Linked DNA regions of Homo sapiens. The protein of the gene in region 1 purifies or fractionates together with the protein of each later gene. This does not show direct contact. Each region holds a gene or a part of one and is shown in the gene's direction. Other genes may lie near its edges.

Evidence for each region. Proteins that work in one complex are often made in the same cells at the same time.
Region 2: the proteins of CELSR2 (region 1) and HTR2C purify together in Homo sapiens (co-immunoprecipitation; one large-scale study listed by IntAct). This does not show direct contact.
Region 3: the proteins of CELSR2 (region 1) and TAF1A purify together in Homo sapiens (co-immunoprecipitation; one large-scale study listed by IntAct). This does not show direct contact.
Region 4: the proteins of CELSR2 (region 1) and SLC39A4 purify together in Homo sapiens (co-immunoprecipitation; one large-scale study listed by IntAct). This does not show direct contact.

What each region holds. Positions count from the first base shown.
Region 1 is NC_000001.11:109,252,539-109,256,038, forward strand, and holds part of CELSR2 (cadherin EGF LAG seven-pass G-type receptor 2 precursor), read left to right. Parts: coding exon 1-851; intron 852-3,500. UniProt on the Homo sapiens protein: Receptor that may have an important role in cell/cell signaling during nervous system formation.
Region 2 is NC_000023.11:114,590,586-114,594,085, forward strand, and holds part of HTR2C (5-hydroxytryptamine receptor 2C isoform a precursor), read left to right. Parts: intron 1-3,500. UniProt on the Homo sapiens protein: G-protein coupled receptor for 5-hydroxytryptamine (serotonin).
Region 3 is NC_000001.11:222,562,434-222,565,933, reverse strand, and holds part of TAF1A (TATA box-binding protein-associated factor RNA polymerase I subunit A), read left to right. Parts: intron 1-1,808; coding exon 1,809-1,875; intron 1,876-2,637; coding exon 2,638-2,761; intron 2,762-3,500. UniProt on the Homo sapiens protein: Component of the transcription factor SL1/TIF-IB complex, which is involved in the assembly of the PIC (pre-initiation complex) during RNA polymerase I-dependent transcription.
Region 4 is NC_000008.11:144,414,045-144,418,344, reverse strand, and holds the start of SLC39A4 (zinc transporter ZIP4 isoform 2 precursor), read left to right. Parts: upstream 1-1,500; 5' UTR 1,501-1,555; coding exon 1,556-1,747; exon of another isoform or gene 1,748-2,136; coding exon of another isoform or gene 2,137-2,253; coding exon 2,254-2,535; exon of another isoform or gene 2,536-2,925; coding exon 2,926-3,118; exon of another isoform or gene 3,119-3,234; coding exon 3,235-3,371; exon of another isoform or gene 3,372-3,448; coding exon 3,449-3,620; exon of another isoform or gene 3,621-3,723; intron 3,724-3,910; coding exon 3,911-4,083; intron 4,084-4,249; coding exon 4,250-4,300. UniProt on the Homo sapiens protein: Selective transporter that mediates the uptake of Zn(2+). Plays an essential role for dietary zinc uptake from small intestine. The Zn(2+) uniporter activity is regulated by zinc availability.

The sequences.
Region 1 (3,500 bases):
CCAGGGCAGTGTCTATGAGGATGTGCCACCCTTCACTAGCGTCCTGCAGATCTCAGCCACTGATCGTGATTCTGGACTTAATGGCAGGGTCTTCTACACCTTCCAAGGAGGCGACGATGGAGACGGTGACTTTATTGTTGAGTCCACGTCAGGCATCGTGCGAACGCTACGGAGGCTGGATCGAGAGAACGTGGCCCAGTATGTCTTGCGGGCATATGCAGTGGACAAGGGGATGCCCCCAGCCCGCACACCTATGGAAGTGACAGTCACTGTGTTGGATGTGAATGACAATCCCCCTGTCTTTGAGCAGGATGAGTTTGATGTGTTTGTGGAAGAGAACAGCCCCATTGGGCTAGCCGTGGCCCGGGTCACAGCCACTGACCCCGATGAAGGCACCAATGCCCAGATTATGTACCAGATTGTGGAGGGCAACATCCCTGAGGTCTTTCAGCTGGACATCTTCTCCGGGGAGCTGACAGCCCTGGTAGACTTAGACTACGAGGACCGGCCTGAGTACGTCCTGGTCATCCAGGCCACGTCAGCTCCTCTGGTGAGCCGGGCTACAGTCCACGTCCGCCTCCTTGACCGCAATGACAACCCACCAGTGCTGGGCAACTTTGAGATCCTTTTCAACAACTATGTCACCAATCGCTCAAGCAGCTTCCCTGGGGGTGCCATTGGCCGAGTACCTGCCCATGACCCTGATATCTCAGATAGTCTGACTTACAGCTTTGAGCGGGGAAATGAACTCAGCCTGGTCCTGCTCAATGCCTCCACGGGTGAGCTGAAGCTAAGCCGCGCACTGGACAACAACCGGCCTCTGGAGGCCATCATGAGCGTGCTGGTGTCAGGTAAGGAAGGGCCCAGGTGGCGCTGGGGTGGGGGTAGCTCGCGGGGATGGTCTGGGCAGCCACTGGAGGTAGGGTGCGATCCAGGAAGCAGCTACAGATCCACCTCCCTGCCCAGTGCCTGGCACAGAGCAGGAGGGGCAAGAGCCAGCTTGGGAAGAAGCCCCAGGAACCCTGGCGGCTGGTGCAGGCCCCACCTTCTGCTGGGCTGGGCTGGGCTGCTTCGGTTGGCTGCCCCCACTGTCTACCAGCCTGTGACGTGGTCGGGGAAGTGTTGTGAGGCTGCCCCGGCTATGGCTGCCAAGAATTGTGAAAAAAGGCGCGTGGAAGCCTGGGGGGCCAGGAGAGCTGGGGGAAGGGCAGAGAGGACTGTGGCGCAGGAGAGGAGGCGAGGCCAGGGCCCCTTCACCCCCATCAAGATATTCCTGCAGTCTCACACAGCCTTTGGCAGAGCTGGGGACCACGGGAGCACAGGGCTGCCGCCACCCAGGGGTCAGGACCCTGTAGTCCTCTTCTGGCCCCTTTTGCCTCCTGGCTGAGCTGCAGAATCGGCTGACAGGGACTTTGTCTAGCGCATTCTTTTCCCTCCAGGCAGAAAGAGCCTGGCCTGGCTCCCCCTTCAGAGCTCCCACAGGAAGTGAGGCCAGAGCTCATTGTCTGTCCAAACAGACCCCACTTTCAGAGTCCGTGGTTCGGGTCTGGCTTGGAGGAGGGGCTGCAATGAAGCTGGGGGGCAGGCTGAGGCCTCGTGGGCCCCCCTTGCCACCTCATGGGCTGTTCTTAGGGTGCCAGGCCTTCCTTTCCTGCTAGCTGTGACCAGCCCAAGCTCCAGGAATGGAGTGTAGGGACCAGGACAGGCCAGTGGACTGGTGAGCTTTGAGGGCAGAGACCCCAAGGCACCTTATCTGAGGAGAGAACAGAGTCCCAGGGCGTGGGAGCCTGGCCGGAACCCAGGCTGGGGCATTCCTGCTGCTTGGCCAAGCACTCAGCCTACAGACTCCCTGGACAGCAGGGCTGGGGGAGGAGAGTTGGAGGGGGTTGGTGACAGTATTCTGTCTTTTTTTATCAGCTGTGGGGAGCCAGAGGTAGCAGCAGGGAGAAGACCACACCCAAGTTGCTGAGTGCCTTCCCCAAGCCTGGGAACAACTGAGACCCTCATGAGGGGATGCTGTTAGCTGCACCCCAGGGGTGGATCAGGTCACATCCCCTCTAGGCAGCCTTCAAATCCATCAGGGAAGGGAGGAAAAGAAGAGGCTGGCAGGCCCCTACTCCCACCCCAGGGAGTGTGGCCTGAAGGGGAAGGAGGGGTATGCCAGAGTCAGGGCGTGGCCTCACTCAGGGTCCTTGCTGGACAGATGCCTCCCTGCCCCACCCTTCAAAGTAGCCACAGGAACCAGGAAGCAGGAGCTTTTCAGGGACTGTGGCTGAGGTTCTGAGCCTCCTGAGACTTCAGTTTCCCCTCCAGGAGGCGGAAGAGGGAGGCTGGAGCTCCTGTGTCCTCAACTGTGCCTGGGCACTTGAGACAAGTGGGAAGGAGGTGGGAAGGAGGGCCTCTCCCTCTGGTCCTCCACACCCAGCCTGCCTTTGGTGAGCGTGGCCAGGCACTGGCAGAGAAGCGCCCCCATTAAGCCTTCGGTCTCCCACCAGGGCAGAGCCCTAGACCTTGGTTCCCTAGTCTAGAGAAGGCTCGGGGCAACATCCAGGACGGCTCCTCCTGGCCCGGCAGCTCTGGCCCCACCCTCTCCCTTCGGCCCTGACCCTTGGAGGCAGTCACCACGGCAACCCCAAAGTTCAGGGAGGCCGGGGTGAGGGGGAGCTGACTCCCACTGCCCCTTTGTTTTCCTCCTCTTGTTCTTTGTCTCTTCTTTCTTTCCCGCCCCTGCCCATGCGGAGCCCTGCAGCACTGCCTCTCTCCGGTGCCCTCTCCCTGCTCCTGCGGCTCTCCGGCTCTCCCACTTGCCCATTGCTGGCTCCTCTCCTGAGGCTTTGTCTTCCCCTGTTTGGTCTCCGTGTTTGTGCCTCCACTCTCTTCCCTATGGCTGCAGCTGCCCCAGCCTGGGCCGATGGCTCCCCTGGAGGCTGAATTCTCCTCGCCTCTTTCTTCCTCTGCTCAGACACGCAGCAGCTCCTGTCCATGGTCTGGGCAGCTCCCAGAACAGCAGAGCCCTCTTGGCCTCCAGTCTCCGCTGGCACATCTGCCAGGGGAAGAGAGGCTGGGAGGCTGACCGGGACCTGGCACTTTTCCAGGTGTGCCTGGCTAAGCTTGGGACACAGGTGGCATTTCCTGGGGTCAGAGGCCATCCCAGCTGTTCCTTTTCTGTCCAGGAAGACAGCTCAGGCAACGTACTCCCCACCCCTGTTCCCATCCTGCCTTTGCACCTGAGGGGTGACCTAGGTCAAGGCAGGGGAGGGTGATATAGAAAGGAGAGAGCAGTGGGTTGACTGTTGGGGATGGGGGACAACAGCAGAGGGGGCAGGTGGCCACAGATGGTGGACCAGATGGGAAGCAACAGAGACATGCTGGGAGAGGGGCCCAGGCGGGGCCTAAGACGATGGCGGTGGGGGACACAGGGAGAAGTGTTTGTTCCCAGGGCTGAGGGGTGGCAAAGTTTCTCCCGCTCCATGGCCTTGGTTGCCCCCTCTCCTCTCTTA
Region 2 (3,500 bases), on another chromosome or scaffold:
GAAGGAAGAGCTAAAATAGAATTTTTAGCACATCTGCACAATAATATTCAAGAATTCAAGGCATCTAACAGAATAACAGTTTCCCCTGAAATGATTTCAGGTAATTTCTCTGAACATATTTTAGGGCAATAAAAATATTATAAATCTTCTTAAATTAGTTTAGCTAAAGCTTAGCCCTACCACACTGTTTTATTTTCCATTTCACAGTGAAATACACCATTATATATACATATATGAGAGAGAGACCATTTCATTGACCACATGCATGGCTATAGAATTCTCTTTTTATTAGCAAACTGAGTTCTGCACCCATTTTGCGGTATGGGTTGATGGCTCAGAAAGAAGCGCAAGTTTTCTTTTTAAAATAGCAATTCCTAAATGCCTTTGCAGCAAATAAACTTGTAAATAAGAGCTTTATTTCCTTCCTTTTTATACTGTTAAAGGAAATCAGACATTAGTATTAATGAATTGCTCTGAGTGATCACGTCATGAATCTATTAGTTTTTTTTATCTTAATTAAACAGTTAATTTAATGCTTTGTGGCTTGTGGGTAGATTGTTCTAGCATTTTTGGTTGGTCAATGACTCCCAGAGGTCTAATAGGCCTGTATCTTTTAGTTTTAAATGTAATGTTAGTCTAAAATAGATTCAGAAAGAAGTTGATTACTTCATTCTTGAAGGAAGTAAAACAAGGAAGATCTGGTGTCTCTCCAACAAATATTTTTTGAAACTTCATTTTGAAAAAGCAGAAATGAGCTGGTTTCTCAATAGATTTATTTATTTAGTCATTTCATCATACCTCTATATCTATTTTTAAAATCACTATGTAAATGGAAAAGAACTTGTATGGTAGAATTATGCGCCCAAATGACTATTCATTGATACAATGACTTGCTCTCCAAAGTATTATTTAAGTTAGCAAGGGCAGATTCTTTAGTTTGGAGGATTATTACCCACCTCTCACTGGGTAACTGTCTGTGTCAAATTTTCCTGCTTCTACTACCAAACCTCAGCCAATTTCCTAAATTTCACGTAAGTAAATCTATAAAATTCACTGTCCATATTTATCTGCCAAATTAGTGAACTGTAAGATGAAGATGAATAAAGAAAAGCCTGTAAGAATTATGGAATTTCAGCAATGGCTTAGTTGAAATTCAGCAAGAGAATTTCAGTTGAGGGCTTAATGTACATTTAACACTTTGTTGGATGCTAATGAGGTGAAAAACATATTCTACAATACTTCCCTAAGGAAACAAATAAGTACTGTTAGACAGTAAAGGCAATTCAATGTAATAATGTAGTTTTGCAATTTATGGTATAGGCAACATTGATTTCTCTCTTTCCTACTCTCTCACTCAGGATGAATGAAGAAAAAAATGGTCCAGTCATTTGCTTAACTCAGGCCTCAGTTTCCACAACTCCAAAATGAGAGCCTTATACTAGGTAATCTTTCTGTAAGGATCCTTCAAACTAACCTCTTTGTTATAAACAGATACAGAATACAGAAACCACTGAGGTTATATGACTGACTTCCCTAAGGTTACAAATATAGAGTCACAAATTGTATAATATATAAAATGGGGAAGAGAACATGGAGAAAACTCCCACAAATTTTATTAGGTTGGTTCAAAAGTAATTGTAGTTTTCACCATTGTGGTTTTCACCGCAATTACTTTTGCACCAACCTAATTCAGAATTTAAAAGTGAAAAACATTTGAATGCTGAGAAGATAATACATTGTTATAAAGTAATTTGAATTTTTACCATAGATTTATACTTTACTTTGGGTAAGTGCCATTTTCAGAAAGGCAGCCAAATTTGTACAAACATAGTGGATATTCTGAGTCTCTTGATTGAGAATGAAGCAACAAGATCAAATAAAAGTTCATTTGTTTCTCTAGTATAATACAGAATACATTTATCACAACACTTATAGAGTGAGAAATTATTAAAAAAACACTCTATCCCTTCTCCCAGATTTCTTTAATTTCTTATGATAATTGAAATAATGCTTGTCCTTCCTACCTTGGATTCATTCGTGGATAACTTTTCTTAATTATTCCCCATTTCAGTCCATTAATACAGCTTCAGAATTATTTCTGAAAAATGTTGTTCAAATGTGCCACCTTTTAAATTCCATTGTGATTATAGACTCTTAGGGTTAGTAATTGAAAGCTCATTTCAGACAACTCCCTATCTCATGTTTGAACTCTGCACATCTCCCACTCTCTTTACAATGGCACCAAATAATGCTACCCAATTCCTGGGCAGAGCATAGATAAGGCTAAAAGTTGTCAGCTACCAAAGTAGCTGCTGAATATCAGAATGAAACCCAGGGACTCTAAAGTGGGTTATGAAGTGATGAGCTTCAGCTAACAGGGAACATTAGGAAATGACTGCAGACAAATCCTCATGCTTAATTCAGAGAAAGATGTACGGTTTGATTGGAGGGGGTGAGGAAGAAGGATATCATACAGACTATAAAGCCAAGAAGCAATGCTTAGAATGCAAATGTGTTATAATTTTGTGTGTGCAGTGTAAAAAGACTACTGGCCATATTTTAAAAAGTCATCTAGGTTACACTCACATACTTAAGAACACCAGAATTTCCATTTTAAATTTTAAGAAAATAGACATAATTGTTTGCACCTCTTACATGGCACTTAGCACATTGTATTACATTGTTTTTTCCTTAGATATGGAGTCTTGCTATGTTGCCAAAGCTGACCTTGAACTCCTGGGCTCAAGCGAACCTACTGCCTCAGCCTCCTGATTAGCTGGGACCACAGGTGCATGCCACTGCACCTGGCTTCTATCGCATTTTATTTTTATTACTTGGTTTTTAACTTATACTTTAGAGGCAGGCCTGGTGTTAAAGGTTTTACATGCATCACGTCACTTTTAAATTTGAGTCTTATCTTTCCTACTGGATTATAAATTCACATGGAACAAAGATTATAATTTATTCATGTTTATACTCCCCAGCTACCGTTTGCATATATCATTACATATTGTGGCTTCTCTCAACATATATTTGCTGAATAATTAATATACAAAAAGACACAAGCACTGTGGGAAAGGTATTTATAGTGCAAATTTGGAGTTAACTAGAACCTAAGTTCTAGTCTGTTATAAGCCTCTATGTCCTCCTCCGCCAAAAGAGAAAATCAGACTGGATGGTTACTGAGATAATTTCAAATGCTACAACTTTAAGAAAATATCAACAGTTTCTAATTCTGAAAATCCACTTCAAATAATAATACTCAGGTAGTTGATTTTATGCCCCAGAAGATTAATGGTTATGACTCTTCAGCTACTTAAGTAATTCTTATAAAATCTCAAGTCAATATTCACTTCAGGTCTCTAACTTGTCATTTTCCATTCACTCCAGTGCCCTACATTTGAAATGATTCATGTCTTAAAGATTTCTGAGTGATTGAAGACATGTCTTCTTTTTGTCTTTTGTTATTTAAAGTAAATTTAAGATATCTTTGGCTATTA
Region 3 (3,500 bases), about 110 Mb from region 1:
AACTAAGTTTTATAAATTTTTCAACAGGCTTTGTTTTACTAAACAATCCTTTGCTGTTGTTGTTGTTTGAAACAGGGTCTCACTCTGTTGCCCAAGCTGGAGTGCAATGGCATGATCACGTGAGGCTCCCTGTAGCCTCCACCTCCCTGGCTCAGGTGATCCTGCCACCTCAGCCTCCCGAGTAGCTGGGACTACAGGCACACGCCACCATGGCTGGCTAATTTTTTGTATTTTTGGAGAAACAGGGTTTTGCTATGTTGCCCAGGCTGGACTAAACAATACCTTTAAAGTTGCTATTTTTATTTTACTCTCTTAAGATAGCTTTTGGCTCATTTATATTACAAAATATTAAGGATTGTGTTTAAAACAAAAGCAAGACTGTGCTTTCAGGTTATCAATCACTAATGGTGTTTTTGAAAAGATTTTTTAAAATGCTACAGAAAATAACTGTTGAATACTTATCTCATATTTATATTCAAGACAAGATGGATTTAGAGAAATTCTGTTTTTCCTTTTGAAAAATAGGGTATTTGGAATTAAGATCTCAATACATGGGTTTAATAGCAGATTGGACATAGCAAAAGAGAGGATTAATGAACTGCATAGAAAATATCAGGCTAAACCATGGAGAACAAAAAGGATGAAAGGTGCAGAAACGAGCATACAAGTGAATTGGTGAAAAGATCTGACATACCTGTCATTGGAGTCCTAGGTGGAGGACCTCTGAATAGAACAGGGCAAAAGCAAGCAAACTAATTTTTTAAAAACACTGGCATTTGAAGGGCTCATGACTAAGACTTTTTCAAAACAAATGGAGGATTTCTAGTGTTCTGGTGATGTGCTATTATTTGATCTGGGTGCTGGTTACCTGAGTGTTTAACTTTGTGAAAACTGACTGGTGTCATGATTTGTATGCACTTCTACTACATGTTATATTTCAATAGAAAAATCTAAGTGAATTGAGCCATATACAGAATTCTATAAAATCATGAGACAAATGTGACTTTCATAGGAACTGAATTTCAATAATATTCTCTGATATTGGTGTATTGATCTTGATTGATCTTTTTAAAAATGATTAAGAGAAATTAACAAAATTTACTTTTAATTTTGTTGGAAATTATTTCAATGTAAGGTCAAAGTACTTTAGTAAGCAGAATGAATTCATTTCTAGTATTAAATGTATTAAAATGAAAAATACAGCTTTACTTTAAATTCCATTTTTTGAATATTCATAAAAATAGTCCTTCCTATTTTTTAAAAGAAAAATCTTTAATTTTTTCATTGTGTGAAAGGTTGTTAAAATATTTACTCATATAACCTTAGTAAACTGTTCCTGAGCACAATCTGTGAAATTAACTCCCAGCCTTTTTAGCTTTTTTGCTTTATATAAATATTCTGTGATCTCTTCTGTTTAGTAAATAAGTATATTTTCTGTGTGATAATTGATTTTTTTCTTTTTTTCTTCAGTCCTGGCTTCTGAAAGAAATCGTTTTTAGTTGTTGAGCGTGGTAAACAGTATAGATATGTATAAGGAGCAAATAAAAAGTCCCTGCCTATTTTCCTCACTTCTCCTGACTATTTTGTTATCAGGGCCTTTTTTTTTTTTTTTTTTTTAAGACAGCTTTACAGAGAATGCTTTTCTATACTTAGATTGAAACTAGATAAAGAGCCAGGGTATTTTTAAAATACTTAATAAATTTAAAGGGAGCATATTAGACAGTAAGAACTTTATTTTGAAAGTAAGCTGAAATTTGAGAAATGCTTTTACAAGTATGTAAAGATTACAAGACTGTTCTTTCTTTCAGATTTTGTATCAGATTGTACCATCTCATAAATTGATGTTGGAATTCCATACATTACTTAGAAAATCAGGTAATAAATAAATGTTGTTTTATACCTTGTGTAGACAAGCTATAGACTAGGGACCAGCAAACTAGTTTAGCCCATCGGCTAAATCCACCCCTTTCCTGATTTTATAAATCAAGTTCTGTTGGAGTCCATCTGTTTCTGTATTGTCTGCGGCTGCTTTTGCACTATAGTGACAGAGCCGTGTAGTTGTGACAGAGACTGTATGCCTTGCAAAGCTTAAAATATTTATTATCTGGGCCTTTATAGAAAAAGTTTGCCTACTCCTGTTACACAATGTGAAGGCAGTAGTTTGCAAAAGAGAAATGGCTCGATTTTATATAATTCACTCCATTTTAATCCCTGCTACATTTCAGCACACCATAGAAGAGAGCATGCTCCTTCATAGAAGAAAATCAGCTGGCTAAGCCCAAGCTGGTCCTAGGACTGCCTAGGTTCCTCTCTGAATATGAAAGAACATGTATAAAATGCCCAAACAGGGCAGGTACTTTAAATAATGTCCTTAGTAGAGGAGTGTAACCCATATTGAGATCAAATTCACCACCATTACCTCATTAGCAGGGATTTTTATTGAGTTTTTCAGATTCATTGCAGGAGTAAGAGCATAATGAATTTTTAAAAACTGTTAACCAGAAGGCTTATGATTCAGTATTTTATCAACAACATATATGTAAAGTATATATACAGTTGATAAAATGTATACATGTAAATTTTAGCTTTGTACACTTTAATACCTTATGTAAACTTGAACTGTTAAAACCATTGCAGAAAAAGAAGAACACCGTAAACTGGGGTTGGAGGTATTATTTGGAGTCTTAGATTTTGCCGGATGCACTAAGAATATAACTGCTTGGAAATACTTGGCAAAATATCTGAAAAATATCTTAATGGGGTAAGAAACATACAGTGTTTATTACTAGGTCATCATAAATAATATTTCCCAATATTTTAGCTAATATCAATTTTTAAAGATCTTTGCTTATGTTTTATAATTTCTTGAATTGTGTCTTCAGCTGTTTTCTGAGTACATTTTCTTCTGAAGCAAAGAAATACAGAGTCATAAGGAGAACATACAAAAATTCTATCAATTTTTTTATGCCATCAAAATAAATCCTGTACTTAGCACTACTGCTTGCTAAGGAATACGTATGTGTTTTCCATTTGGAAATAAAGACTAGCAGGGATCACTCTTTGCTAAAGACTCTTTGTGATTTGTGCGTCATTAACTTGTAAGATCACATGGGAAGCAGCTTTCCTCCTACCTGTGTTTGATCATTTTCAGTGAGTATTTTTAGGACCTGACAAGATCATCATACACTAGTCATTTAACAAATACTCATTAAATCCATTTTGACCTGGGTATCTAAAAGTGTACCTCTGATCATAATATTGTTAGTGTCACATTTTGAGTAAAAGAAAATGAATTTCCTGTTATTTTTACTTAGTGTGTGAGAAGAAGGGATATTACAAAGTTGTTTCATATATTTATTATATCCAATTTAGTTGTTAGGCAATTCAGTGTCAGTTGGAAATTGTTTCAGGCTTCAGATCTGACTTGTCCCGATGGGACAGTGCTGTTTATAAAATGGTTTTGGTGTCATATGTTGACGCACTCACTGTAAAGCATTTTC
Region 4 (4,300 bases), on another chromosome or scaffold:
CATCTTCAGGCTGTGTGTAGAGCAGCCCCCTCATGGTCCTGGGACCCAGAAATCATCTGCACCCCCAGCAGGCTCTGCACCCCCGGCAGGATCTGCACCCCCGGCAGGCTCCCCTAAGGGCCCCCAGAAGGATACCACTGCGGGTGGGCCCAGCCAGAGGAGCACCATGAGATCCGCTTGGTGGGGTGAGGCCGGCAGGGGAAGCACCCTGACCCCAGGACACTGGGCTCAATGCCCGCCCTGCCCCGTCCCACCCTGTGTATGGCGGGACAGAGTCCTTGGGCCTCAGGCACCCAGCTCCCCACCCCAGCCCCACCCACAATGCTCAGGGTCAGGCTGGCTGGACCGGGCGGGAGGTGGCATCTGGACTCCCCCTTCAGAAGGCAAAGCTGCCCTGAGATCTGCCTTCCCCTTCCCCCAGACTTCCTGCCATCACCACCACGGTAGAGATAAGGCCTCTAGGCTCAAAGGCCAGAGAGGGAGCCCACAGAGAGGGCAGGGCTGGGAGCCACAGCCTCCCTGCCCCCGGGGCTAGAGCTGGGGTCTTGCCCCAATCTTATCCTGACCCAAGCTCGGCCAGGTGGCTGCCAGGGCCCAGCTCCGTCTTCCTGTTTGTCTGTGTTGGAGCTTCCTGGGGCTGTCTCCGGCCTAAGGGAGCATGATGCAGCAGGCACCTTTTCAGTTTCTTTGACTCCATCGCAGTCCCCAACAGGGACCACAGCCCAGGACCCAGGAGGAGGGAGGTCCATGTCCCCACCCCCAACAGGGGCCACCGAGGGTGTCTGGGCAGCCTCTGTTGGGAGGGGCAGAGGCAGGGACCTGGGAGCTCTCAGGCTCTGGGGGCATCTGTGCACCTCTGCCCTGTGTCCCCCAGCTTGGAGGCAGCCCCCAGATGGACAGCCAGAAGGGGACACCCCAGCCCTGCCCCACAGCTTGGGGGGCAGCAGGCAGAGGACAGAAGCCCACCCAGGCTGGCCTGGCGTGGTGAGCCACGCCGGTAATCCCAGCACTTTGGGAGGCCAAGGCGGGCGAATCACCTGAGGTTGGGAGTTCAAGACCAGCCTGACCAACATGGAGAAACACTGTCTCTACTAAAAATACAAAAGTAACCGGGCGTGGTGGCGCTGCCTGTAATCCCAGCTACTCGGGAGGCTGAGGCAGGAGAAGCACTTGAACCCGGGAGGCGGAGGTTGCCGTGAGCCAAGATCACGCCATTGCACTCCAGCCTGGGCAGCAAGAGCAAAACTCCAACTCGAAAAAAAAAAGACCACCGAGGCTGCCTGTCCAGGGGAAGGGGCCCAGCCCTCGACCCCCACAGGCAGTGGCTCCAGGCTGTTGGGGAGGATCTGCCACTGGAATGGTTAACCCAGGCATCTCCAGCAGCCAATCACAGAGCTCTGCAGGAATACCTGGGAGAGGTCCTCATGCAGCCCGGGCGGGTCCTAGCCCAGCCCCAGTCTGGCCCTGGACAACCCCAGCAAAGCCGCCCTCAGCCAGCCCAGAAGCACTGGGCCTTGGCCACAGCAACACCCACTGAGCACGCTGGGAGCTGAGTATGGCGTCCCTGGTCTCGCTGGAGCTGGGGCTGCTTCTGGCTGTGCTGGTGGTGACGGCGACGGCGTCCCCGCCTGCTGGTCTGCTGAGCCTGCTCACCTCTGGCCAGGGCGCTCTGGATCAAGAGGCTCTGGGCGGCCTGTTAAATACGCTGGCGGACCGTGTGCACTGCGCCAACGGGCCGTGTGGAAAGGTAACAGCCCCACCCGACGGGTCCCCCAGCCCTGGCCTCTTCCCGCCAGCTCCGCCCTGCCAGCCGGCAGCAAAGGGCCCTGGGCAAACTCCAGGAGGCGGAGGAGGCTAGTGGCAGTACCTGGGCACCCTGACCCTCCCCACAGGCCAGAGCCCACCCTCCTGCTCATGAGGGCAGACAGGCCTTTCCAGGGACACAGTCCCTCTTCTCCCCAGGACCCCAGGGCCAACTCCCCCTGCCGGCCCTCTGCCATCAAATTGGCAGTGGCTCCAGGGGAGTCCCCTGGGGATGGGGGACCACTGTTGGGGACCCCTCTGCGTGCACCCCTGTAGTTGGGGAAGCAGGACAGGGGCCTGGGGAGACGGAAGGGCGCCAGGGGTTGAGAGAGGATGGTGGACGTTGTTGGACTTGAAAGGGAAACAGGCCCTCGGGGAAGCCCCTGGCCAGGCCTGCCTCTCCCCTCCCTGGTGGGCCCAGCGCCCCTGCTCACTTGTCTCTGCCCACAGTGCCTGTCTGTGGAGGACGCCCTGGGCCTGGGCGAGCCTGAGGGGTCAGGGCTGCCCCCGGGCCCGGTCCTGGAGGCCAGGTACGTCGCCCGCCTCAGTGCCGCCGCCGTCCTGTACCTCAGCAACCCCGAGGGCACCTGTGAGGACGCTCGGGCTGGCCTCTGGGCCTCTCATGCAGACCACCTCCTGGCCCTGCTCGAGAGCCCCAAGGCCCTGACCCCGGGCCTGAGCTGGCTGCTGCAGAGGATGCAGGCCCGGGCTGCCGGCCAGACCCCCAAGATGGTGAGGGAGAGTCCAGGCAGACCAGGGGAGTGGGTGAGGAGGGTCCCACGGCCCATGGGACCCGGCCTGGCTGCAAAGCCTTCGGGGAGCCTGGGGGCCTGGGGAGACGCCCAGGAGTCGGCCTGCGGCTGGGGATTCACAACGTGGGGCTCACTACTGGGCAGTTGGGAGCCTGTAGGAGCCCCGGGAGGGACCTCATGAGGGAGGAACCCAGAGGCCTGAGTGGGAGCCTGAAGCAGCTGGGCCCGGCAGGGAGGGCTGTGGCTCCAGGGAGGGGCGGGGCTGGTGGGGGCAGATCCTGTAGTTGGGGTGGGAGATGCATCCAGGGGCAGCGGGGTGGATGGCAGAAGGTCACACCAAAGGCTGAGGCGGAGGCCCCCTCTTCCCCAGGCCTGCGTAGATATCCCTCAGCTGCTGGAGGAGGCGGTGGGGGCGGGGGCTCCGGGCAGTGCTGGCGGCGTCCTGGCTGCCCTGCTGGACCATGTCAGGAGCGGGTCTTGCTTCCACGCCTTGCCGAGCCCTCAGTACTTCGTGGACTTTGTGTTCCAGCAGCACAGCAGCGAGGTCCCTATGACGCTGGCCGGTGAGGCCTGGGCTGGGCTGTGGAGGGGGGCACCCCCGAGTCCCCAGCCTCCACGTCCCTGGGGGGCAGGGCCGGAGCCCACACAGACTCGCGGTGCCAACTCTTCTCCCTGCCAGAGCTGTCAGCCTTGATGCAGCGCCTGGGGGTGGGCAGGGAGGCCCACAGTGACCACAGTCATCGGCACAGGGGAGCCAGCAGCCGGGACCCTGTGCCCCTCATCAGCTCCAGCAACAGCTCCAGTGTGTGGGACACGGTGAGCTGCGCCCTGGGGTAAGATGGGGCCTCACCGGGGTCTGCTTGGGCCCCTGAGCCTGTCCTGCCACCCCCCAGGTATGCCTGAGTGCCAGGGACGTGATGGCTGCATATGGACTGTCGGAACAGGCTGGGGTGACCCCGGAGGCCTGGGCCCAACTGAGCCCTGCCCTGCTCCAACAGCAGCTGAGTGGAGCCTGCACCTCCCAGTCCAGGCCCCCCGTCCAGGACCAGCTCAGCCAGTCAGAGAGTGAGTGCCCACGCCGACATTGTGCTGGCAGCACAGAGGTGGAGCCCGTGTAGGAAGGAAGGAGTGGCTGCCCAGGATGAGGGATGGAGAGAGTGAGCAGGGGCTGGAAGTAGAAACAACAGACACAGGGGAAGGTGGCGTCGCCAGGAGAGTGGGGCTTTGAGGCAGGAGGGTCAGCCTGAGTGAGGGCCTGGCCCACACTGACGGCCTGCAGCTCTGGTGAGCAGCGCCCGGGAAGCAGGGGCTGAGTCTGGAAGAAAAGCTCTCACAGCCGCCTCACCCGCCCCCAGGGTATCTGTACGGCTCCCTGGCCACGCTGCTCATCTGCCTCTGCGCGGTCTTTGGCCTCCTGCTGCTGACCTGCACTGGCTGCAGGGGGGTCACCCACTACATCCTGCAGACCTTCCTGAGCCTGGCAGTGGGTGCAGTCACTGGGGACGCTGTCCTGCATCTGACGCCCAAGGTCTGCCCCCACAAACCCGCGACCCTGGCCCTCCGTTCCCCACCATGGACTCCCAGGCCGTGCCCTCCCAGGGACCTTACCCACCCCACCTCCTGACCCCTCTCCCTGGGTCTTGGTGGGAGGCGCCCTGGGACCTCCCCCCCAGCCCAGCGCCCCTACTCCCCAGGTGCTGGGGCTGCATACACACAGCGAAGAGGGCCTCAGCCCACAGCCCACC